Homo sapiens: one gene and its partners. The protein of the gene in region 2 interacts with the protein of the main gene of each other region in a biochemical or structural test. Each region holds a gene or a part of one and is shown on either strand. Other genes may lie near its edges. The genes, in order: PYM1, NEDD4L, RANBP10, TRPV4, SENP2, DDX54 and NDFIP2.

Region 1 (2,982 bases), on a different chromosome or scaffold from region 2:
TTGACCTATTTTTTTAAGTTCCATCTAAATAAAATTTCTCCTTTACAACATCCGCTATTGTCATTTCTCCTCCCCGTGGTTTTTGTGTCTTTTTAGCCTCTTGTTCATTTACTGCCTTTCATGTTCCCATGCTATTGCCTTGGTTTTTTAACAAAATTCTTCCTCTGTGCCTATCCTGTCTTACCTACAAATAGAATCTTCTTGAGGGCAAGGATGGTTTCTTGTACGGTGTATTGGCACTCGGTAAATAAATAATGAGAGAGGGATTGAGTGTTGGTATGAGAAAAGGAGCCTAATGGTTGCATTTGGATGAATGGGTGCTGAGAGATGGTATGTACATTTATACATTCTTGTCTCATCTTGTAAAATGTTTGAAAATAAGAGTAATTTTCAACTTGATTTTTCTTATTTTAGGCAAGTATATCGCGTCAACACAGCGACCTGACGGGACCTGGCGCAAGCAGCGGAGGGTGAAAGAAGGATATGTGCCCCAGGAGGAGGTCCCAGTGTACGTGGTTAGGCTTTGCGTAGGGGTTTTCTGATGGGGTCCCTACAGAAGGATAGAATATCCTTATGCCTACAAGTTCAGGGAGGACTCTCCTAAGCCCCAAGGAAATGGAAGGAGGGGCAACTATCTGAGAAAGGAGAGAAAGAGTCTGGGATTCAGGGATGAGTGAGGGTTACAGATCACTAGTCCTATACTTTTGACCTCTGTTCATTAGAACCTCCAGAGCTTTAGGTTCTAGGGACTTCGCTGCATCTTTCCTGCAGAGCAGAGGAAAGTTGGGGAGGGACCATAAAGAGAGAAAGGTGGTCAGGCCCAGTGGCCTACATCTGTAATCTGAGCACTTTGGGAGGCCTAGGCAGGTGGATTACTTGAGGTCAGGAGTTCAAGAACAGCCTCCCCAAAGTGGTGAAACCCCGTCTGTACTAAAAATACAAAATTACAAAATACAAACATCAGCCAGGCGTGGTGGCACGAGCCTGTAATCCCAGCTACTCAGGAGGCTGAGGCAGGAGAATCTCTTGAACCCGGGAAGTGGGAGGTTGCAGTGAGCTGAGATTGCGCCAGTGCACTTCAGCCCTGGCGACAGAGCGAGACTCTGTCTCAAAAACAAACAGGCAGGCGCAGTGGCTCTCTGTAATCCCAAGCACTTTGGGAGGCCAAGATCGGTGGATCACCTGAGGTCAGGAGTTGAAGACCAGCCTGACCAACATGGTGAAACCCCATCTCTACTAAAAATACACAGTTAGCCAGGCGTGGTGGCAGGCGCCTGTAATCCCAGCTACCCGGGAGGCTGAGGCAGGAGAATTGCTTGAACCCTGGAGGTGGAGGTTGCAGTGAGCTGAGATTGCGCCATTACACTCCAGCCTGGGCAACTGAGCGAGACTCTATCTCAAAAAACAAACAACCCCACAAAAACAACAACAAAAAAAGGAAGCAAGAATGTAATGAGGATGAAGTGTTTGGAAGTTTAAGAAAAGGGATCAAAAAGTCAGTAATTCTCTGAAACTCTTGACATCCTTTGTTTCCTGCAGATATGAAAACAAGTATGTGAAGTTTTTCAAGAGTAAACCAGAGTTGCCCCCAGGGCTAAGCCCTGAGGCCACTGCTCCTGTCACCCCATCCAGGCCTGAAGGTGGTGAACCAGGCCTCTCCAAGACAGCCAAACGTAACCTGAAGCGAAAGGAGAAGAGGCGGCAGCAGCAAGAGAAAGGAGAGGCAGAGGCCTTGAGCAGGACTCTTGATAAGGTGTCCCTGGAAGAGACAGCCCAACTCCCCAGTGCTCCACAGGGCTCTCGGGCAGCCCCCACAGCTGCATCTGACCAGCCTGACTCAGCTGCCACCACTGAGAAAGCCAAGAAGATAAAGAACCTAAAGAAGAAACTCCGGCAGGTGGAAGAGCTGCAGCAGCGGATCCAGGCTGGGGAAGTCAGCCAGCCTAGCAAAGAGCAGCTAGAAAAGCTAGCAAGGAGGAGGGCGCTAGAAGAGGAGTTAGAGGACTTGGAGTTAGGCCTCTGAGGCCTTTGGGGAATAGGGAATGGACTGCAGAACAAACCGTGGGGCTCTCTGGGGTCTGGGGGAATACGGGCAACAGCAGTCAGGAGGGGTACCCCCCATACTGGCTTACTTCCACCTCCTGCGGCCCAGCTCTGTCCTCCAGAGCCTAGCGTCTCCCTCAATCCTTCCCTTTTCTTCCCAACTTCTACTTTTTGGACTTTCCCCCTCCCATTCCCAGTGTTCAAAATCTCAGTGACTACCCCAGGTACCTTTGCTGCTGATTTGGGTGTCTTGTTTAAAAGAAAATCAGGTGGGTGGGAATCTCTTGGAGAACTGAGGCTGAGGGTAGAGGGAGTATGCCCAAGTCTTGGAGTCTTGGTTCCTGTTCGCGGTGTTTATGGGTTATTTCCCTCTCCATCCCTCATTTTTTTTTTTTTTTTAAAAAAAGCAAAAATGAGAATAAACACAAGTAGACATGTCTGGCTTTGCCTCCTTATTTTCAGCTCCTAGTAGATATTGTATCTCCTGAGTTTGGCACAGGAAGACAAGTATTGGGAGTGATTTCTTTTCTTTTCGAGACAGAGTTTTGTGCTGTTGCCCAGGTTGGAGTGCAGTGACGTAATCTGGGCTCACTGCAAACTCTGTCTCCTGAGTTCACGCAGTTCTCCTGCCTCAGCCTCCCTCCCGAGTAGCTGTGATTACAGGTGCCCACCACCACACCTGGCTAATTTTTTAGTAGAGATGGGGTTTCACCATGTTGGCCAGGCTGGTCTTGAACTCCTAATTTCAGGTGATCAACCCACCTTGGCCTCCTAAAGTGCTGGGATTTTAGGCATGAGTTACTGTGCCCAGCCGATATATATTTTTTTCTTTTTCTTTTTTTGTGAGATGGAGTCTCGCTCTGTCTGCCAGGCTGGAGTGTAGTGGCGCGGTTTCAGCTCACTGCAACCTCTGCCTCCCGGGTTCAAGCAATTCTCCTG
Region 2 (2,407 bases):
CTTTTAGTAGGCTTAAGCCATGTGTTTTGGGCAGACTTTTTTTTTTTTTTTGAAACGGAATCTCGCTCTGTCACCCAGGCTGGAGTGCATGCAATGGCACAATCTCAGCTCACTGAAACCTCTGCCTCCCGGGTTCAAGCGATTCTCCTGCCTCAGCCTCCTGAGTAGCTGGCATTACAGGCATGCGCCACCACGTCTGGCTAATATATATATATATTTTTTGTATTTTTAGTAGAGATGGGGTTTCACCATGTTGGTCAGGCTGGTCTTGAATGCCTAACCTCAGTGATCTGCCCACCTCAGCCTCCCAAAGTGCTGGGATTACAGGCGTGAGCCACTGTGCCCTGCCAGACTTTAATGTTTTTAAAAGTGCGGCGCTTTTAGGGAGATGAAGGAAATGAACATACTATAAATCTGCAGGCATTTAAACCCCTCTGACAACAATTAAGATGGTGCATTCACAAAGAAGCTTTAAATCAAACAACCCATAACACTTGATGTAGAAAATGTTCCAGCTTCCATAATTCTTTATTAAATATTTGACAAGTTGCATCGCTTCTTTACAATGACTTCATTTTGTCACATTAGTCTTTTGCTGTCAGGAAAACAATCTACAGTTTCTCTTTAGATCTCTCAAGAAAAAAGAAAAGCGAAAGGATTGTTCTTCAAGAAAACTTCCTGTGTGTATCAAATTCAACCATATTTTAAAGCTATTCTGACTGTGAAAATGAGCATTATTCATAAGTTGCCTTAAAAAAATTCAAGGTAGTTTGGTTTTTACCACTGTATCAAATAGTACTTGGCTTCCTATTAGGAGGTGGGTTTATAATAAAAAGTTATGAAACATTGATAATTTATTTGGAATGCTTGAAACTCTTTTCACCTTAAAAGTCACTGTTTTTTTCATGTTTCATTTGATGATAGATCCTGAATTAGGAAATGACAGCAAATTAACATCATCTTCCTAGGGTTTTCTTAGGCTCCAAGGGTTGAAATTCACAGGACACAGCTTGGAGAAAACTGCAGAAGGGACTAAACTCTCACCTCCTTTCGAAACCAGATTACTCAATAAAGGTGTAAAAATGCTATACAAATATATACAAATATATTTGGACAGCATATGTACGTATATATGTATATATATTACATACAGAGTAGTAAAGGAAGAACAAAGTCACGCAAAGTTAACATGAAGGAAACCGTGACAATCTAGGTGAAATCAGTCTGAGTAAAAGGGGAAAACTGGCTTACACGGGAACACATATCTGCAGACACAGAGTTATGGTCACGAGGAAGGCTTCTGATGATGCACTGGTACGGGGTTGAGAATGCAGTGCACGCGAGGTTAGGCGCCAACAGCAATGCTACTCCTTACACACAGAAAACCAACGAACGGAAAGACGTGCCTTTGAAACATGCGTTGCTTTCAGTGGAACATCTTTAACAAACAACAGATGTTTAATGAGGTTTGCTTGGAAAATTTCATGCCAACAGGAAGCTAACCCTTTTCTAGAAAACGTTCTCCAAGCTCCCGTCCTAATGCTGTGGCACTTTCTCTGACATACTGAGAACACTCTGGGGTGGGGGTGTGTGTATGCAAATGTATAGACACTGTTCATTAAGGCTTATATAAATTAAAAAAGTGGTCCAAAGAATATCACATTTTTCCCCAGTTTTAAAATCTAAAGTACAAAGTGGAGTTTATAAGGATTTGTTTTTTAAAAACACATCTCAGTCCTGAAATTGGCAGTTCTGACACGACTTATCAGGATGTACCCCAATGCCTGAATGACAGAGGTAGTGATCTTCGGGGTCAGGGGAGGTCAGGAAGGGAGCAGGCGGGCAGTTACCCTGCACAGCGGCACCCTCTACTGGCGAGGCAGCAAATGATACCAGACAGCACCTCCCACCTCTCCCTCTTAAGTACAGGGGTGCAGGGCCAGGGTAAGGAGGAGACAGAAGAAGGAGAACTAGCACAGTGTCACGTAGGGGCTGCAGAACTGATTAACCCAGGCTCTCTTTATACGTTTTTAAATTTCAGAGGTGAGTACAAGACTCTCAGAAATACAGGAGTCGACTGTTAATGGGTAACTGTTAGAATAATTAAAAAGTTGCTGTGTATGAACCTGGCTTTCGGGAGGACCAGTGTGGATCTGGCAAGATAGCAGCGGTGCACACTCTCTATGCAACAATGGGAGATGTAGAAAATGGTTCAAATGTTTTGCATGCTGTTTCTCAGAATCTGTCACTGTGAGGCCGGGTGCGGTGGCTCATGCTTGTAATCCCAGCACTTTGGAAGGCTGAGGCGGGAGGATCACCTGAGGTCAGGAGTTCAAGACCAGCCTGGCCAGCATGGTGAAACCATCTCTACTAAAAATACAAAAATTAGCCAGGCGTGGTGGTGGGT
Region 3 (3,991 bases), on a different chromosome or scaffold from region 2:
AGAGTCCCAGAACCTGCCAAAGCAGCCCCCTCTGATGCTCGCCCTGGGCCAGGCATCTGAGTGTCTCCGGCTCATGGCCCGAGCAGGCCTGGGTTCTTGCTCCTTTGCCAGAGTTGATGACTACTTGCACTAGCTGACTGTGCTGGCTGGCTCTGGCTGGCCCTCCACTGGCCCCAGGGCTGGAGCTGCCCTGCCCTCCATAGGCAACTGGTGCAGGGACTGGGAAACCATAGACAGAGTCCACTCCTCCTGCCTGGCCTTTCCCCCTCTCCCTTTCCTTCCTTCCTTCCTTTCTCTGCCCACCACCCCGCTCAGTCTCTCTCTCTCTCCCCTTCACGTGCAGCGGCCTGTAACACAGTATTGGCTGGTTACTCTCATGTAGCGCCTTCTATTTTGAAAGGGGGGTTTTGTTTTGAGGAGGGGTTGGGGTTTTTAAATTTTTTTCTCCTGACTGAGCCACCAGTATTTATCTCTGGAGAGTTTGTGCTGAGCTGGTTTCTGCTAATTTAGTGATGAAGCCTATCCAAGTTGGTGATAGCTTATTATTTTCATAAGTAAAAAACAAATGAGATTATATATATATATATAAAAATATATATATTAAAAAAAAAGACAGTATTTATCGTAGCATTAGTGGTCCAGCACCTCTTGGGTGAGGCTGTCCAGGCACCATGTTTTCTTTGAGTCCAACTCATTAAAAAAGAAGAATCTCTGTCACCTCAGCCAAGTGATTTATTTTTTGCTCCCCCTTTTTTGAGTCACAGGCCGAGCTGCAGCCTAGGAAACCCAAATAGGGTTTGGTGGGCCACTTAGTGGGCATGGTTACATTGGTTTATAGCATCCCAAGAACTGTAGATCCCTAGGCCCCTGAGAGCTGGACAGAGCAGAGAACTACAGGGCCAAGGGTCCAGAGAAGTGATAACTTGGCCCAGGGCCACACAGCAGAGGTAGAGGGTCCTTGGCCAGCACACTATCTACCACTCTACCCCACCTCCCACTGCCTGCCTTGCTCCCCTTTCCTCCCTTTTCAATACCCTATCTTCCCTTGTTGTTAAGATGGCCAAATAATACATTTACTCTAAATTGATTGCCTGGAAACTACCTGCCTTCGTCCTGAGAGCTTCTGTGTGTCAGGCTGCTGGAAAGAAGACTCCATTCCCAGGACAGAGGCCCTTGAGTACAGGGGCTGCTTTCTTCCTGCCTAGATCTTCACCATCTCTGCACAGCTCTGAGAGAATGGATGCTTTCTGTTGAGAAACCAGTACCTTGTGGAGGCAGGTTCTTGGGCTGCTACTCCAGGGAGTGGATGGAATCCTTGGTCCCCTAGGCCAGACTTCACTGCCACTGTGCCAGACAGCTCCCTGCAGCTGGGCCCTAGCCACTCTTAGGAAAGACTATTGGGAGTATTTGCTGGCCAGAGAATGGGACTCTATCAGCTTTACACATGTCCCACCAGCTGTTTCAGATAGATCCTTACAGCTGGCAGAGTAAAAGTGGTCCCGCTACCATTGGGGAATCAGGAAAGGAAAGACTGAGATGGTTGCCAGGACTTGGGGTGGCCCACCTGTGGAGAGGACTGGCTGCCCTGGAGGAGGAAAGGGAGGAAGTCTACACAGAGGAGCACCAGGACGGCTGGAATTTCCATATGTGCTTCACATTGTGAGGGGAGTGCACAAGCCGCCCATGCAAAGAGTAGGGTCAGCCATGGCAAGGCCGGAAGTTGAACTTTCAGTCCCTGCCTGAATCTGGGCTTTGCAAGCTCCTGCTCCATATTGGTGGACATGGGAATGGTTGGTGTGGCCTGAGATACCCATTGCTCACCAGGCCTCACTGGGCCCACAGCTGGGCAACAAGAAAAATGTTTGAATTGGACCAACTGCTGGTGATGGGGCCAGGGCCCTGGGCCCTGTGCTGTCAGAATTCTGCCTTGGGAAATGATCCTATAGCTGCTGCTTTTTCTTGGTCCTTGGGGCTGGCAGACCCATAGACCATGGCCTGTTAGGAGGCGTCCTGTCTGTAAAGGAAATTCATCTCTTGTGACAGCCTGGGGCTACCTAGCTCCCAAACCCAGAAGTTGGAGACATCAGGCTGTTTAAATGATCATAGCCTAGCAGGATTGGATTAAAACCACAGGCTTTTGCAGCTGGAATGGGGTTCAGTGAACATCTCCCCCATTCCTCTCTTGCTACAAATAAGGAAACAGGCCCAGGAGATTAAGTGACTTGGCTAAAGTCACATAGCAAATTAGTAGCAGAGCCGGGACTATCCCTTATCCCTGTGGGTTGGGCAACACTATTTAGTCCTGAAACCGAATGGCAGATAAACCCCATGAGGGGTCAGGCTGATGTGCCCTCCAGCAGTATCTGAGAAGCTGCTACCTTCAGGGGTGTGTCAGGGATGAGGACGGGTGCCTGAGCTTAGGTTGTGGAGTGGCTGAGAGGGCCCAGGAGGGCTCGGGACAGCTGTGTGCTGCATGGGGTTGGGTGTCTGCCTGGCTCGCACTTGGTACCCATGGCCACCTCCCCATTTTCTGTGCCTTATCTCACTGTTTCAGCTGAGTCCAAGTTGTTTACTCTGTTCCTCTCCAGAGGGGCTCTCTGTCCCAGTTGGGCAGCTCACCTTTGGGACATAAGCCTTTGCCCCACAAGCTGTGGAGAGGGCCAAAACCAAGCTGCTTGAGCCCACTCTCTTGCTGAGAGTCCAGGCCTGCCTGCCTGCCAGCCAGAGGTGCCCCTTATGCACATCCAGTCCTACCAGCCTGCTTCCAGGAGCCTAGAGTGGGAAAGGCACCTGGGGGAGCCCTGGTGAAGGGCTGGACCTGACCCATGGAGGCAGGAGGAAGACCTGGCTTTCTTGGTTTGTCCGGCCCTGGGGAGCAGCCTTCCCTACTCACTTTCCCCTTGCGGCACCAAATGGTCACTCCTTCCAGAGCAAAAACTGGCACTCATAGCAAGCCAGAACCCCCATCCCCATCCTCATGGGTCTGTGGCTGGGTGCAGGCCATCAAAATGGACACCACGAGACAGAAGTGGGGACTGCCTGGCCACCTAGCGCCTTCCCACTCCTTAAGCAAGCACAAAGAAGATGAGGCAGAGAATTGTCAGAGCTGAAAGTTCCTTTGGTTGCTCACAACTCAGGTATGCACCCATGTGGCAGCCAGGCAGCGGAGCCCTACTAGACTGCCAGTCTCATGCACCCAGACCTGTGGCCAGATTGTGGCCTCTGGCTGCCTCAGGCATTTTCCTCTTTGCATTGGGTTTTCCTGCATTAGTAACTACAGCTGCAACAGACATCCTCCACATTGTGCACACTGGTTTTGCCTTTGTCCTCAAGAGTTGATACTTGGCATTAGCATGAAACTTGTGGGTGTGGGAGGATGGAGAGAGAACTCTAACACAAAACATCTTATTAAAATTGTACTTGAGAGACAAAAAAAAAACTCTGTTGTATTTTGACAGAATTATTTTTATTAAAATACACATCCATGAGCAGTCATGTGTGTCTGGTCTCTGTTTTGAGTCTTACTGAGGTTGGCACCCCTTCTGTGACACATCCTGTCCTAAAGGATTTGGGCCCTTCCCAGCCTCTCAAGTGCCCAGGCCCTCAGGTGCCTTCTTCAAGGACCTTTGAAACTGTGTATTTGTAAGACCCCAAAGAGGACAGGTACTTAAACCTCAGTTCTCTCTTGAAACGGCTTTCTTCTTATACAAGGAAAAAGTAGCAAATTCAACTAAAGAGCCTGGGCACAGTGGCTCACGCCTATAATCTCAGCACGTTGGGAGGCTGAGGCAGGTGGATCCCTTGAGCTCAGGAGTTCGAGAACAGCCTGGGCAACATGGCAAAACCCCATCTCTACAAAAAATACAAAAATTAGCTGGGCATGGGGGCGCATTCCTGTGGTCCCAGCTATTCAGGAGGCTGAGGTGGGAGGATCACTCGAGCCCAGGAGGTCAAGGCTGCAGTGAGTTGAGATCATACCACTGCACTCCGG
Region 4 (3,500 bases), on a different chromosome or scaffold from region 2:
CAGGGGCAGCTCCCCTGCGGGCCAGGGTGAAGGGTGGGAGGTCAGCGAAGGGGGCCCAGGGTGGGACTCTGCCTGCAGACACTCGGGGGACGGACACCGTGGCGCTCTGAGGATAATGACGGAGACAGCACCAGCAGTGGATATGAACTGCACGTTTCTCTGGGTGATGCCAGGGAGATGGGGTGTGGCTAGTTAAGGGCACAGCCACGCGATTTGGAGGCTGTGAGGGACTGGACACATCCAATGATGGAATTCTTTTTTTTTTTTTTTTTGAGACAAAGTCTCACTCTGTCGCCTAGGCTGGAGTGCAGTGGCACAATCTCGGCTCATTGCAACCTCCACCTCCCGGGTGCAAGCAGTTCTTGTGCCTCAGCCGAGTAGCTGGGATTACAGGCGCACGCCACCACACCTGGCTAATTTTTGTATTTTTAGTAGAGGCAGGATTTCGCCATGTTGGCCAGGCTGGTCTCAAACTCCTGACCTCAAGTGATCCGCCGACCTCGGCCTCCCAAAGTGCTGGGATTACAGGCGTGAGCCACCGCGCCCAGCTGATGATGGAATTCTTTGTGTGACTTTGTCCCTGAGCTGCACATAATGAATGCCTTTAAGCAGGGGCAAAATTCAAAATATTTCATGAGTCCAGTGATGACAACGGCAGTGGTGGGCTTTGGGCCTGGTGATGGGGCTGTTGGTCCCAGCATAAACCAGATTAAAGCACACAGACAATACAGAGCTGGGCGCTGACATCACAGCCCAAGGGCCTCTCGTGATCCCCACTGCACAGCTGGGGAAGGTGAGGCTCAGGGAAGTGAGGTCACATGCCTGGAAAGTGCAGAGTGAGGATTTGGCTTTTTTTTTGTTCTTTTCTTTTTGCTTTTTAAAGACGGGGTCTTGCTCTATTTTCCAGGCTGGAGTGCAGTGGTGCAATCATGGCTTACTGCAGCCTCGAACTCCTAGGTTCAAGTGATCCTCCAGCCTCGGCCTCCCAAGCAGCTGGGACTTCAAGCACATGCCACCATGCCATCTAACTTATTTATTTATTTATTTATTTATTTATTTTTTGAGACAGAGTCTCACTCTGTCACCCAAGCTGGAGTGCAATGGGGAAATCTCGGCTCATTGCAACCTCTGTCCCCCAGGTTCAAGCAATTCTCCTGCCTCAGCCTCCCAAGTAGCTGGGATTACAGGCACCCACCACCATGCCCGGCTAATTTTTGTTATTTTTGTAGAGATGGGTTTCACCATCTTGTTGGCCAGGCTGGTCTTGAACTCTTGACCTCAGGTGATCCACCTGCCTCATCCTCCCAAAGTGCTGGGATTACAGGCATGAGCCACCGTGCCCAGCCATTTTTTAAATGTTTAAAAGAGACAGGGTATTGCTATGTTGCCTAGGCTGGTCTCAAACTCCTGCCCTCAAGCGATCCTCCTGCCTTGACCTCCCAAAGTGCTGGGATGACAGGTGTGAGACACCGTGCCTGGCTGGAGTGAGGATCTGAATCCAGGTCCATGGTACTCCCCATGGCACTTACACCTCAGAGGCAACGGCCCTGTGACCAAGACCAACGTGCAGCCTGTGGTCCAGAGTGCTGCCTGCGCTCATGGCCAGAGTGGCCCTGGGTGTCTGGGTGATGGTCAGGGCTGCAGACACCAACCAGTATCATGCTATCTCCCGCCATGCTTCTCCAGCATGCTGTCAGCCCCCACCAGGCCCCTCCTTACCAAAGTAGAAGTAGCCCCCCTCATCCTTGGGCTGGAAGAAGCGCCCACGGGCCTGGGCGTGGACATCAGCTCCCTGGGCCACGAGAAGTTCCACGTAGTGTTTGCAGCGACGCTCAATGGCGATGTGCAGGGCTGTCTGACCTGGGGGCAGGGGACGGTCATCCAGGGTCCTGGCGGAGCAGAGACCTAGCCAGGCTTGCTGGGGGTGGGGGTAGGGTGCAGGACGTAGAAATTGGGGGGTGGGGGATGCAGGCAGAGTCCTGCCCAGCGACACCCAAGGGCAGCAAATAGGTCCTTGGATATTCCCTGGGATCCATCGCAGAAGCAGAATCTCAAGCCTGAAGGATACCTAGTTTGTGGAATCCTGAATGTGAGAAGTTTTTAGATTCATAAGATGCTTTAAAAATCCTAGAGGAGGCCAGGCGCAGGCTCACGCCTGTAATCCCAGCAATTTGGGAGACCAAGGAGGGAGATCACCTGAGCCCAGGCGTTTGAGGCAAGCCTGGGCAACACAGTGAGATCCCATCTCTATAGAAATGCTAAAAATTAGCTGGGCCTGGTGACTTACACCTGTGGTCCCAGCTACTCCAGAGGCTGAGGCAGGAGGATTGCTGAAGCCTAGCAGTTCAGTACCAGCCTGGGCAACTGATATGGTTTGGCTCTGTGTCCACACCTAAATCTCACCTTGAATTGTAGTTCCCATAATCCCCATGTATCATGGGAGGGACCCTGTGAAAGGTAATTTAATCATGGGGGCAGTTACCCTCATGCTGTTTTCATGATAGTGAGTGAGTCCTCAAGAGATCTGATGATTCTATAAGGGGCTTTTCCCCCTTTTGCTTGGCACTTCTTCTTCCTACCACCATGTGAAGAAGGACATGTTTGCTTCCCCTTCCACAATGATTGTAAGTTTCCTGATGCCTCCCCAGCCCTGCGGAACTGTGAGTCAATTAAGCCTCTTTCCTTTATAAATTATCCAGTCTTGGGCAGTTCTTTATAGCAGCATGAGAACGGGCTAATACAACAACATAGTGAGACCCTGTCTCTACAGAAATTTTAAAAATTAGCCTGGCATGGTGGTCCATGCCGGTGGTCCCAGCTACTTGGGAGGGTGAGGTGGGAGACTCCCTTGAGCCCAGGAAGTCAAGGCTGCAGTGAGCCATGATCACACCACTGCACTCCAGCTTGGGTAACAGAGCAAGACCTTGTCTCAAAAAAAAGAAAACTCCTAGAGGAAACAACAGTACCTTGGCCTCCCAGAATTTTGGACTCAAGATATAATATTCATGGATTTTGAATCTTAATATCCAGGCATCTGAAGGTCAACTCTGATTTACAGAATCTCAACTGGGGATTGGCCCAGTTCTTGGCCCCCTGCTGCCTTTGCCTCTTAGAACTTGTGAACTCAGGACTTATTATCATAGAGCCTTAGAGTATCCGCCACCACAGCATCTTAGGGCCAGATCCCGAGTTCATGATCACTAGACTCGCTGCATCTCAGAATCTTGGAATCTTTTTTTTTTTTTTTTTGAGACAGGGTCTCACTCTGTCACCCAGGCTGGAGTGCAGTGGCACAATCATAGCTCACTGAAGCCTTGACCCTCTGAGCTCAAGTGATCTTCCCACCCCAGCCTCCCAAGTAGCTGGGACTACAGGTGTGCACCAACAAGCCTGGCTTTTTTTGCATCTTTTTTTTTTTTTTGAGATGAGTCTTGCTCTTGTTGCCCAAGCTGGAGTGCAATGGCGCGATATTGGCTCACTGCAACCTCCACCTCCCAGGT
Region 5 (3,500 bases), on a different chromosome or scaffold from region 2:
GGGGCCTCATTATATTGCCCAAGTTGGTTGCAAACTCCTGGGCTCAAGCAATACCTGCCTTGGCCTCCCAAAGTGCTGAGATTATAGGCATGAGCCACTGCACCAGCCCTGAAAATATTTTAACTTATAACTACAAAGCAGCCTTACTTAATTGTTGTAAGTAATACTTACAACAAATCCTGGTTCACTTATTAGCTTGTGGAAACAATAATTTAATAATAATATTTACATCTAAAGTATAGTCTCAATTTTCCTACTACTACGTATTAACCACTATGAGTCAAACATGGTGTTAGATGCTTGAAGCACATCATTGATCCATATTAGTGAGGAAGACATTATTATCATTTTATAGAGAAGAAAATTGAAACCCAGAGAATTTATTTTACATATTCAAAGTCATATAATTATTAAAAGGTAGAAGAAGATTTGAACCCAGGTGCATCTAATTTCCTGGACTTTGCTCCCTTCATAATAGTAAACTCCTGATTTCCACTTTAAACGTTTTTTTTTTTTTTTGGAGACGGAGTCTCGCTCAGTCTCCCAGGCCGGAGTGCAGTGGCGCCATCTCGGCTTACTGCAAGCTCCGCCTCCCGGGGTCACGCCATTCTCCTGCCTCAGCCTCCCGAGTAGCTGGGATGACAGGCGCCCGCCACCACGCCCGGCTAATTTTTTGTATTTTTAGTAGAGACGGGGTTTCACTGTGTTAGCCAGGATGGTCTCGATCTCCTGACCTCGTGATCTGCCCATCTCGGCCTCCCAAAGTGCTGGGATTACAGGTGTGAGCCACCAGCCTGGCCCTTCTTTTTTTTTTTTTTTTGAGACAGATTCTCACTTTGTCACCCAGGCTGGAGTGCATGCAGCTGCATGATCTCAGTTCACTGCAACCTCTGCCTCCCAGGTTCAAGCAATTTTCATGCCTCAGTCTCCTGATTAGCTGGAATTACAGGTGCACACCACCATGCCAGCTATTTTTTTGTATTTTTGGTAGAGACGGGGTTTCACCATGCTGGCCAGGCTGGTCTCGAACTCCTGACTTCATGATCCGCCCATCTTGGCTTCCCAAAGTGCTGGGATTACAGGCGTGAGCCACCACGCCCATTCTCGCCTTTAAACTTTTAAAACATCAAAAAAGGCTGGGTGTGGTGGCTCACGCCTGTAATCCCAGCACTTTGGGAAGCCAAGACGGGCGGATCATGAGGTCAGGAGTTCGAGACCAGCCTGGCCAGCATGGTGAAACCCCATCTCTACTAAAAATACAAAAATTAGCTGGGCGTGGTGGCACGCGCCTGTAGTCCCAGCTACGCAGGAGGCTGAGGCAGAAGAATCACTTGAACCTGGGAGGCAGAGGTTGCAGTAAGCTGAGATTGTGCCACTGCACTCCAGCCTGCCAACAGAGCGAGACTCTATCTCAAAAATAAATAAATAAATAAAACATCAAAATAAGATTAGGACATCTAAGGGGTCACACCATCCTTTTTGACATGAAGAGAATAAGCAAACAGGCAGAAACTTGGAAACCACCCAGCAGTCTAGCAATTGACTCCTTATGGAATAAATGGCTTCATCATACTAAAGAATTATGCAGATAAATGCATTATTTAAGATACAAAACTAAATCTATAAACCCAATAGAAATTATTTTCCTCTAGGCCGGGGGCAGTGGCTTGCGCCTATAATCCCAGCACTTTGGGAGGCCGAGGTGGGTAGATCATCTAAGGTCAGGAGTTCGAGACCAGCCTAGCCAACATGGTGAAACCCGGTCTCTACTAAAAATACAAAAATTAGCTGGGCATGGTGGCAGGTGCCTGTAATCCCAGCTACTAGGGAGGCTGAGCCAGGAGAATCACTTGAACCCAGGATGCAGAGGTTGCAGTGAGCCAAGATCGCGCCATTGCACTCCAGCCTGGGCAACAAGAGCGAAACTCTGTCTCAAAAAAAAGAAATTATTTTCTTCTAAATATATGCTGCTTCCCACTGCACACAGCTTCACCATTTTATGGATCTCTCTCTCCACCTACATGCCCAATATAACAGTAAGTATTCAAGAGATTTGCCTACTAGGGCAACATTGTGGAGGAAGCCAAGATGTGGGCACATCTTTAAAATAAGAATTTTAACTACCTTCATTCTTTATGTTCTGTAAGTTTTTACTATTTTCAAATGCAATAATCAACAAAGGGGGCATTTTAGTAAACTATAATAACTTTCAAAAAAAAAATGCAATGAACTTATTCTTAATGCCAAACCCATACTATATAACTCAACATATTTGAAGGTTAGAATTTACAAAGAATCTGTTGTATTCCAAGATATGAGATGACTGTGTCGACTCCCCATTTGCTGAATATCAATCTGATCCCTTAGGCCACTAATGATCATGCCTCACTAAAGATCAATGTAGTCAAAGTGAATCAACAGACCATGGACCTGACATGTTTTCATATATTCACCCCTAGCCTGGAGAAAGTCCTCAAAACAAAACATTCAAGTTAGAATAACTGAGGTTATTTAAAGACATGCCTCTTTTTAGGATCAATACAAAGAACAATACCTCTGTAAGTTCAAGGAGATCGTCCGTTCTTCTGTCCCTCTCTTTGCCTGAGCAATTCTTTTCCTTTGTCTCAATTATTGACACTTTCCTCCTGAGTAAGCCATTGCTTCCACTGCCCAGGCGGAGTCGGGCCGACACTTCTTCTGATAGGTCAGGCTCCAGTTGGTATCCCCTCCTCTGATCAAAAAATTATCTAAATTCTACTGACATGTTTGATACTTGCAAATATAAACACAGATTACACATGAAATATAAAACTGCCACTAATGTGAAAGAAAAGAGAATTAGCAAATCCCCCAAGTGAGTAGATTTACCCTATCTGTCTGTCCCTGCAAGGGGGAGCAAAAAAAGCTCCAGACCTAGGCCTCACAGGACCCTCAGTTATGAACCATCAAACAGAACACTCACCACCTTCCCTGGAAGTAGCAAGAAAAGTATTTTCAGTTCTCCTATCACAATTAAAATTAGTATGTTTAAAAGATATTATGAAAGTTTTAAACAGCAAAAAATATGACCCACAATCCCATCACTCAGAATAAATCCCTACTATCTTTATAGTAACTCAACTTGGTTCTAGTTTATCCTTGAAAAAAGTCATTTGATATTACAGAAAATGCACAAAACATTAATGTACCACTTAATTTGAATGAACACCTATATAACCACAATTGTAGTAAACAAATAGAATTCTGCCAGCAACCCAGAACATATCATCTCTTTCCAGAGATGTATGATTTTTAAGAAATTCTCCCTAAGAAGCCATAAAATGTAGGTAACATGTTGGTATGGAGGCAGATTGGTCTCTCATAAACAAAGGTGGCTACTGTACAGAGGCAAAACTCCAACAACTCAGAAGGAAGAAAAAAGTTGTGTATTTTCAATGCTTCCTGCCTTTTTTTTTTTTTTTTTTTTTGAGACAGAGTCTCATTCTGTCACCTAGGCTGGA
Region 6 (4,292 bases), on a different chromosome or scaffold from region 2:
CCCAAGGCCTTCGATGCCTCCTTGCCCACGCCTCTGGTTCTGTTAGCCTTCTCCACCCAGGGCGGATCGAAGTCCGGTGGGGTAGGCCGGGTGCCTGCTGGGCTGCCAAACAGAGTCTCATCCACATATGACGTCCTGGCCTTGACCCGGTAGCCACCTCGGCAGCGGTGCTGAAGGCCGAGGGTCTGCATCCCACTGACGGCCAGCTCCACGGGGGTCTTCATGCTGCCTGTGGTCCCTGGTGACAGCAGGTGTGCTCTGCCGGCCAGGCCCTGCTTCCGAGGCTCCCTGTGAGAGGAGGTCAGAGTAGCACCCCTGAGCCACAGAAGTGCTAATGGAGGAAGACCGGTAGTGTCTGAAGTTCTCATCCCAAGGGTTTAGTTCTCTCTCAACCAGTCTCTCAAAGGGGAGCTGTCAACTTCAGGGGGCATTTTGGAAATTTCTTTGGCTTTTTTTTAGTTGTCATAATGGTGGTGAAAGGGGGGCTACTGGCAATTATTTACAGAATGACTCTGGCGGTGAAGGAGAGATGACACCTGTGTCTATTTAGGCACCAACCAGAAAACACACTATGGTGGTAGGGGAGACAGGCACTTTCCTATGTGTACTGATGGGGGTGGGGGCAATGACAGCCAGCGTGGATCCCATGCCTACCTCCTGCAAAGAGCTTTACAAGCATTGTTTCATTTAATCCTCTCAACAGCACTGTGAAGTAGCTTCGAATTTGTCCATTTTACGGATCACAAAACTGAGGTGAAGTCACATGTGTAGGTCACACCTATAAAGCTAAAACGGTGGAAGTGAAATCTGAGTCCAGAGCTTGTGTACTTGGCTACACTGCTATCGGGAGATCACCGCCGCCCCCACCGCCCCACATTCTGCGACTCCCAAATCAATGACCCGATTAAAAAGTGCCCGAGGTCCCTGCATTTTTGGGTTGTTCTCCTACCTGAGCATCTTGGCTCGTAGGCATCGGGATCCTCAGGGACCCGTCCCCGCACCTTCTTCCCACCAGGTCTGGACCCGTCGGTGAGGGCGCGGGGGCGCGCGGTGCATCCGGGATCCCCGTCAATCTGCAGCCCGGAATGCCTGGGGCCCCGGACCCCCGGCAGCCTAGGCCGTCCCGGGGCACCGCGCGCGGACGGACTCACCCGAGGAGCCGGCACAGGCTACGTGTGAACGGCCCGCGAATCCAGAAACCCAGAACCCAGCACTTTGCACCCAGCAACCAGGGAGCAGCCAGCAGCACTGCGGACGCGGCCCGGACCATTCGCGCCCGCGGATGGGGGGAGTCCGCCCAGGGGCGGGCGCCACGCTCCTGAGGCCCAGGAGGTCCCTAAACATGGAGAGGGTCCTCTGGTGCCACTCACTCAGGTGCGTGTGTACTAGGCCGCCGAGGGCCGCAGGCACTGGCGAAAGCTCAGCGGAGGTCACGTGGTCACCGCACCTCCCCCCCCCCCACGCAGTTGGTGCGCTCCTCAGGCCACGCCCCCTTCTGCGTTCCCAGCGCGCGGCCCGAATGGCGGCCGACAAGGGCCCGGCGGCTGGACCTCGGTCGCGAGCTGCCATGGCCCAGTGGAGGAAGAAGAAAGGGCTCCGGAAGCGCCGAGGCGCGGCCTCCCAGGCCCGCGGCAGCGACTCGGAGGACGGCGAGTTTGAGATCCAGGCGGAAGATGACGCCCGGGCCCGGAAGGTAGGCGCGTGGGGCTGGGACGCATGTTCGGGCCCGAGACCCGGCTCCGGGCAGCGCCTCGAGGCCTCAGTTTCCCCAGCTGGGGATTGGGCTCCGCAGAGTGTGGGGAGGGAGGCTGCCGACCCGAGGACCGGTCTTGGGACCGCCGGCCTGAGCACGTGTCTCGGGGCTTGTCAGGCTCAGGGTTCCGCGGCCAGAGCCTTGGGATCCCGGGGCTGGAGCCTGCGGGCCTTCCTGCCGGGTTTTGGTCGCGCGTCTCTCATTGGCTGCCTCCTGCTCGTGGGGCGGATCCTGGCTCCCTTTCGCCCAATGAAAAGTGCGGGTGCAGAAGATCTGACTTTGAGAGTTTGGAGCGTTCTTGGGAGGTTGAATTAAGGGGAGGCCAGACTGCGTGGCTTGAGACAGTGTGACGCCTCCAAACCTCTGGGAAACGAATTAAAACAATTTTTTTTGAGACAGAGTCTTGCTCTGTTGCTCATGCCGGAGTGCAGTTGTGTAGCCACGCCTTGCTACAGCCTCCGCCTCCTGGGCTCAAGCGATCCTCCCACGTCAGCCTCTCCGGTAGCTGAGACCACAGACATGCGCCACCACGCCCGGATAATTTTTAAATTTTTTGTAGAGACGGGGGTCTCCCTATGTTGCCCAGGATGGTCTCGAACTTCTGGCCTCAAGCAGTCCTCCCACTTCTGCTTCCCAAAGTGTTGGGATTAACAGGCGTGAGCCCGGCCAGTTTGTGTTTGTTGACCGTTTACTATGTGCCAGGCTCCATGCTAAGAGCTGTACGAGCCTTATTATTTAATCCTCACACCAACGTTGTGCTAACACCACCAGCAACTGTCATCTTCATTTTTCTACAGGAGGAAACTGAGGCCTAGAGGGTTAAGAAATAGTCAAAGGCCTGGTGTAGTGGCTACACGCCTGTAAACCCAGCACTTAGGGAGGCTGAGGTGGGAGGATTGCTTGAGGTCAGGAGTTCAAGATCAGCCTGGGCAACATAGGCAGACCCCGTCTCTACAAAAAATTAAAAAATTAGGATGGCCGCGGTGGCTCACGCCTGTAATCCCAGCACTTTAGGAGGCTGAGGCAGGCGGATCACCTGAGGTCGGGAGTTCAAGACCAGCCTGGCCAACATGGTGAAACCCTGTCTCTACTAAAAATACAAAAATAGCCAGGTGTGGTGGCATGTGCCTGTAATCCCAGCTACTCGGGAGGCTGAGGCAGGAGAATCGCTTGAAACTGGGAGTCAGAGGTTGCAGTGAGCCGATATTGCACCACTGCACTCCAGCCTGGGTGACAGAGCAAGACTCTGTCTCAAAAAATAAAAATTAGCCTGGCTTGGTGGCGCCCACCTGTGGTCCCACCTCCTGGAGAGGCAATGTGGGAGGATCACTTAAACCTGGGCGGCGGAGAGTACAGTGAGCTGTGGCTACACAACTGCACTCCATCATAAGCAACAGAGCAAGACTCTGTCTCCAAAAAAAGAAAAAAAAAAAAAAGGGAGATCCCATCTTTACAAAAAAAGAGAGAAAGCAGCTTGACCAAGACCTCACAGCTTGTGAGTACAAGAGCCAGGAGATTCAAACTTGAGACTGTCTGATTCCAAGGCCTGTGCCGTTTCCATTACTGAATGTCATGTGTATGCACATGAAGGGATGGGTGTGAGCACCAATGGGGCAGAAGGGCTGCGCCCATTATTTCCCACAGTCCTGTTCCCAGCGGGTGCCTGGCACCAGGTAGGCTCAGGGCAAGATGAGTAAGTGGACATTTATATGAAGAGAAAGGATCACACTCCAAGGCAGGAACTAGAAGAGACCTCATCCCACTGTCCCTCTCTCATCTTCCAGCCTAGCCAGTACCTGGCACACAGTAGGTGCTCAACAAATGTAGAGAAACTACTAAAGGTAATGAACAGCACAGGCGGGCAGAGGTGGTTATTACCAAAGAAGAGGAGTCTAAGTGTAGTTCAGACCAAGGGCTTCTCACGGCACTGCCCTGTGTTCAAATTTGGCCCAACCTTGCACTGGCTGTGGGACATTGGAGAGGTTGCTTAACCTCTCTGTGCCCGTTTCCACATCCGTAGAAGGCAAGTAAATGATTATATATGTTTCAAAGGTTGTTGGCCCGGTGCCGTGGCTCATGCCCGTAATCCCAGCACTTTGGGAGTCCGAGGAGTGAGGATCACTTGATGCCAGGAGTTCGAGACCAGCCTGGGCAACATGCATGGCGAGACTGCATCTACAAAAAATACAAAAATTAGCCAGGCATGGTGGTGTGTGCCTGTAGTCCCAGCTACTTGGGAGGCTGAGGTGGGAGGATCACCTGAGCTAGGTGAGCCGTGATTGCCCCACTGCACTCCAGCCTGGGAGACTGAGTGAAACTCTGTCTCAAAAAAAAAAAAAAAGTGTTGAAAAGACCAAAGGAGGCTGGGCGTGGTGGCTCATGCCTGTAATCCGAGCACTTTGGGAGGCCAAGGTGAGCGGATCACTTGAGGTCGGGAGTTTGAGACCGGCCTGGCCAACATGGTGAAACCCCATCTCTACTGAAAATACAAAAATTAGCCGGGCTGGTGGCATGTGCCTGTAGTCCCAGCTAGTTGGGA
Region 7 (3,500 bases), on a different chromosome or scaffold from region 2:
TTTCAATAGCATATTGATTACAGGGAATTTAACTATTAAGTAACAGGGAAATATTTATATAAGATGTTTAAAAAATAAAATGGTATCTAGGCAATAATTTCAACTACATTAAACATTAATTTGTGAATCCTGAAATTGGTAAAGACATCAAAATATTTTAAAATAGAGAGCTGTAACAGAACACCTGTGGTGTTTTCCTCTTTCTATTTTCCCACATTGGCTAACACAAAGAAAGCATTCATTAACTTAATCAACTGTCATTGACTAAACAACAAAAATGTGCCTGATAAATAACTAGGTACTGGGAATGTAAATGCAAGATCTCTGTCCTGGTGTTGCTCATGATTTATCTAGTCAAAAGACAAGTTACTGCAACAATTTAAAACAAGTTACAAAAAAAGAGCCCTACCCATTATAAGATGAAATGAGTCTACCTGAAGAACAAGCCATGTTCTAAACATCTTATAAAATTAATAGTTTGGAATTAGCATTTTTCATAGAAATATTAACAATGAGTTGTCATTTTCAGAAATCTACTTAACCATTCCATAACATACGTGCAATTCTACACATCAGAAATAGGAAATAGTAAAAACAGTAGTTTTAAAGTCTCTTGACTATCTATATTCTCCCAGTGAGAGTTGATTTAGGAAACAAGCTTTCAACTCACCCAGCTGAGACTCATTTACAACTGAATGTACTCAAATGCTAATTTGATGAGACTTTTTTTCAATTTTTAAATTTTGTTTGTAATTGACAAAAACTGTATATATTTATGATGTATTACATGATGTTTTAAAATGTGTATACATTGTGGAGTGGCTAAATTGAGCTAATTACCATGTACAGTACCTCAAATATTTTTTTTGTGCAAGAACGCTTAAAATCTACTCTCCTAGCAATTTTCAAGCATTGACCAATTTTTCATCTCAATCAGGTAATGGAGACTCATATGCAAACATTCATACTCTGCACAAAGAGGGTGCTGAAGCACCGGGTTAGGAAGCACTGGTAAATTTATAAGATTTTTTACAAGACCTAAGTTAGTCTCTTGTACACAATTCTATTAATACTTTGCTGTCTATGAAATTTTCCACAATGCTCACAAGCTGGGGTTACAATGATATCAGAAGCAGGTAAAAACAGGGAGCTTTTCTTTATGGACATGTTCCAATTCTGGCTGAGGATTACATTTACTTTCTAAAACAGGGTGCTGGAAATGATGACAATGAGGGAATGGAACAGTAATACTTCAGACTTTTCTCTTCAAAAGGGGTAAAATCAACTTTTCTCAAAGCACACTTACCAAGACTTAATGCTTCCTACCTTGTCTTTAGAATTCTATCCTATTGTATGGAAGTTAGGGCAGTAAATGATCTACGGTCCATAATACTTCTTAAGGTCTCTGGGCAAACACCCCCTGAGAAAAGGAGTTATTGGGACTTTCATAGCTAGAGAGGAATCAATCTACTTCACTGAGAGATGTGCATGTTCATTTACAAATATATGTGTTCTAAGTAACCGAGAACTTATTTAGACAAAAATACCCTATTTAGATCTATCCTCCTCCTCTGTGATGTTCCCCTCAAAGCAACAAAAATTCTTATTGACTCAGCTATATTATGCCACTGTGTTAAGAGACTTACTTTCCTCCTCTGTGAAGGAAAAGGCATAAAAAATAAATTCGGAGTTTACTGTCTTTATCTACCTTCATAACTGTGTCCAAAGCTATTTATGTTGACGTTTAACCCTGTGTGTGCTGGAAGAGGGTAGTAGGAGCAGGCATAAATAGGGTTATTGCTGATCAAAGAAACACATTCAGGGCACATGCTCTTCTCTCAGAGGATCTGCTTGCTGGGCTCTGACCTCATAGCAGCTAGAGGAGAATGCCATACATGGAAGCACATCTCTCTCCCTTGACTCCTCACCTAATTCTAGCTTTCCTGGGTGAATTGATTTTTTTGTCTTTTTCCCGAACAAAATGGGGTGAATCCAGGGATCTGAAACGGCATCTCTCAAGTCTGAAGCAAGAAAAAAAAGGCAAAAAATTCTAGCCCTCCTTGCAGCCACACTAAAATGTAAATAATTTCTGCCTCTTACCTGGCTGCAGAATAGTAGATGTGTATGTATCTCACTGACTCTCCATTACTGAGACAGCCACTCCATTTACCAGAGCAAAGAGTAATACACATGTATCTCATTAACTCCATTACTAAAACATGTAGATGAGGAAGACAGAATGCTTGATCATCATTCCAAAATTCTAGAGTAGAATGTTATCAAAAAAAAAAAAAAAAAAAAAAACAGCTGACAAAAATAATTTGAAGGCCTTGTAACATTTCTCTGTGTTTTTTGGCTACCTTGAGTTCTTTCACAGTCACTAAACTGGCTATGCTAATATAGAAACATAAATAGAAAAAAAGATGATTCACAATTAAAATGATAGGCCATGGAATTCAAACTATGTAAGAAGATAAATAAGTACATGGACAGCAAAGAGGTCAGTGGACTTGAGGTCCAGGCAAAGAGAAGAACTTTCCAAGTGGTGGTAACCAGAGTGAGTGAGTTAGGATGCGAAGTGAAGGCTAACACATGAGGGGCCTGAAATCAAAATTTAGGAAGGGATAAGCGGGGAAGAGCAATAGAAAAGAGGAAGTCAAGGGATAAAGAAGGTGAATTTAACTAGGAGAATGCCAATTTCAACAAAAAGTGACCACACACATAAGCAACAGTAGAACAAATACAGTAACCCTTCAACAATACACGGGTTAGGGACACCGACCCACCTGCATGCGGTAGAAAATTTGAGTATAACTCTGACTTCCCCAAAACTTAACGACTCACAGCCTATTGTTAACTAGAAGCCTTACTGATAACATAAACAGTCGATAATACATAAACTACTATTTACATGTATTTTATACATTCATTACAGGCCTTTTCTTAATTTTTTTGATATTTCTAGGCTATGCAATTTGTCCCAAGTTTTTTCAAATTGCTGCAGATCTCCAAAATATTTTTCCAATATATTTATTTAAAACAATCTGCATACAAGTAGACCTGTGCAGTTTAAACCCATAATGCTCAAAAAAAATCTACATACACACTTACACACAAAGAACTGTTTTTAGTATTACTAAATGTATATATCAATTAACGAAAATAATTTTATCAAAAGAAATGATGAAATTTTCTTACTCTTTGAGATGTTTCTGCTGCTGCAGCTGCCATTGCAGCAGCTTTAGCCTTCTCAGCTTCATCGTATGTAGGAAGAGAGGTAGCAACGCTATAGGGAGGTGGCACGGGATAAAACTCACCGTAAACTTCTGTATCTGAAGAAAGAATTCAAAAAGAATAACCAATAAAATCTATTTAATTTTGTAGCCATAGCCATGACTTAATAATTTACAACTGGCCACCAATACAGGACTACTATTGCTATTATAGGCCTATGTTATAAGCTATAAAATATATAAATTACTATTACAATCATATATCTT

Evidence for each region.
Region 1: of the proteins of NEDD4L (region 2) and PYM1, one has a biochemical effect on the other in vitro, tested with the Homo sapiens proteins (one large-scale study listed by BioGRID).
Region 3: of the proteins of NEDD4L (region 2) and RANBP10, one has a biochemical effect on the other in vitro, tested with the Homo sapiens proteins (one large-scale study listed by BioGRID).
Region 4: the proteins of NEDD4L (region 2) and TRPV4 interact in a test that uses a peptide from one of them, tested with the Homo sapiens proteins (one large-scale study listed by BioGRID).
Region 5: the proteins of NEDD4L (region 2) and SENP2 form a complex in vitro, tested with the Homo sapiens proteins (one large-scale study listed by BioGRID).
Region 6: the proteins of NEDD4L (region 2) and DDX54 form a complex in vitro, tested with the Homo sapiens proteins (one large-scale study listed by BioGRID).
Region 7: of the proteins of NEDD4L (region 2) and NDFIP2, one has a biochemical effect on the other in vitro, tested with the Homo sapiens proteins (2 studies listed by BioGRID, with this or other methods).

The regions. Positions count from the first base shown.
Region 1 is NC_000012.12:55,900,913-55,903,894, reverse strand, and holds the end of PYM1 (partner of Y14 and mago), read left to right. Parts: intron 1-414; coding exon 415-508; intron 509-1,539; coding exon 1,540-2,023; 3' UTR 2,024-2,482; downstream 2,483-2,982. UniProt on the Homo sapiens protein: Key regulator of the exon junction complex (EJC), a multiprotein complex that associates immediately upstream of the exon-exon junction on mRNAs and serves as a positional landmark for the intron exon structure of genes and directs post-transcriptional processes in the cytoplasm such as mRNA export, nonsense-mediated mRNA decay (NMD) or translation.
Region 2 is NC_000018.10:58,399,633-58,402,039, reverse strand, and holds the end of NEDD4L (E3 ubiquitin-protein ligase NEDD4-like), read right to left. Parts: 3' UTR 501-2,407; downstream 1-500. UniProt on the Homo sapiens protein: E3 ubiquitin-protein ligase that mediates the polyubiquitination of lysine and cysteine residues on target proteins and is thereby implicated in the regulation of various signaling pathways including autophagy, innate immunity or DNA repair.
Region 3 is NC_000016.10:67,722,570-67,726,560, reverse strand, and holds the end of RANBP10 (ran-binding protein 10), read left to right. Parts: intron 1-2; coding exon 3-133; 3' UTR 134-3,491; downstream 3,492-3,991. UniProt on the Homo sapiens protein: May act as an adapter protein to couple membrane receptors to intracellular signaling pathways.
Region 4 is NC_000012.12:109,798,899-109,802,398, forward strand, and holds part of TRPV4 (transient receptor potential cation channel subfamily V member 4), read right to left. Parts: intron 1,861-3,500; coding exon 1,720-1,860; intron 15-1,719; coding exon 1-14. UniProt on the Homo sapiens protein: Non-selective calcium permeant cation channel involved in osmotic sensitivity and mechanosensitivity. Activation by exposure to hypotonicity within the physiological range exhibits an outward rectification.
Region 5 is NC_000003.12:185,613,795-185,617,294, reverse strand, and holds part of SENP2 (sentrin-specific protease 2), read right to left. Parts: intron 2,732-3,500; coding exon 2,555-2,731; intron 1-2,554. UniProt on the Homo sapiens protein: Protease that catalyzes two essential functions in the SUMO pathway.
Region 6 is NC_000012.12:113,182,679-113,186,970, reverse strand, and holds the start of DDX54 (ATP-dependent RNA helicase DDX54), read left to right. Parts: upstream 1-1,492; 5' UTR 1,493-1,519; coding exon 1,520-1,693; intron 1,694-4,292. Other genes in the region: RITA1 (RBPJ-interacting and tubulin-associated protein 1), read right to left, coding at 1-288, 950-957.
Region 7 is NC_000013.11:79,533,155-79,536,654, reverse strand, and holds part of NDFIP2 (NEDD4 family-interacting protein 2), read right to left. Parts: intron 3,333-3,500; coding exon 3,199-3,332; intron 1-3,198. UniProt on the Homo sapiens protein: Activates HECT domain-containing E3 ubiquitin-protein ligases, including ITCH, NEDD4, NEDD4L, SMURF2, WWP1 and WWP2, and consequently modulates the stability of their targets. As a result, may control many cellular processes.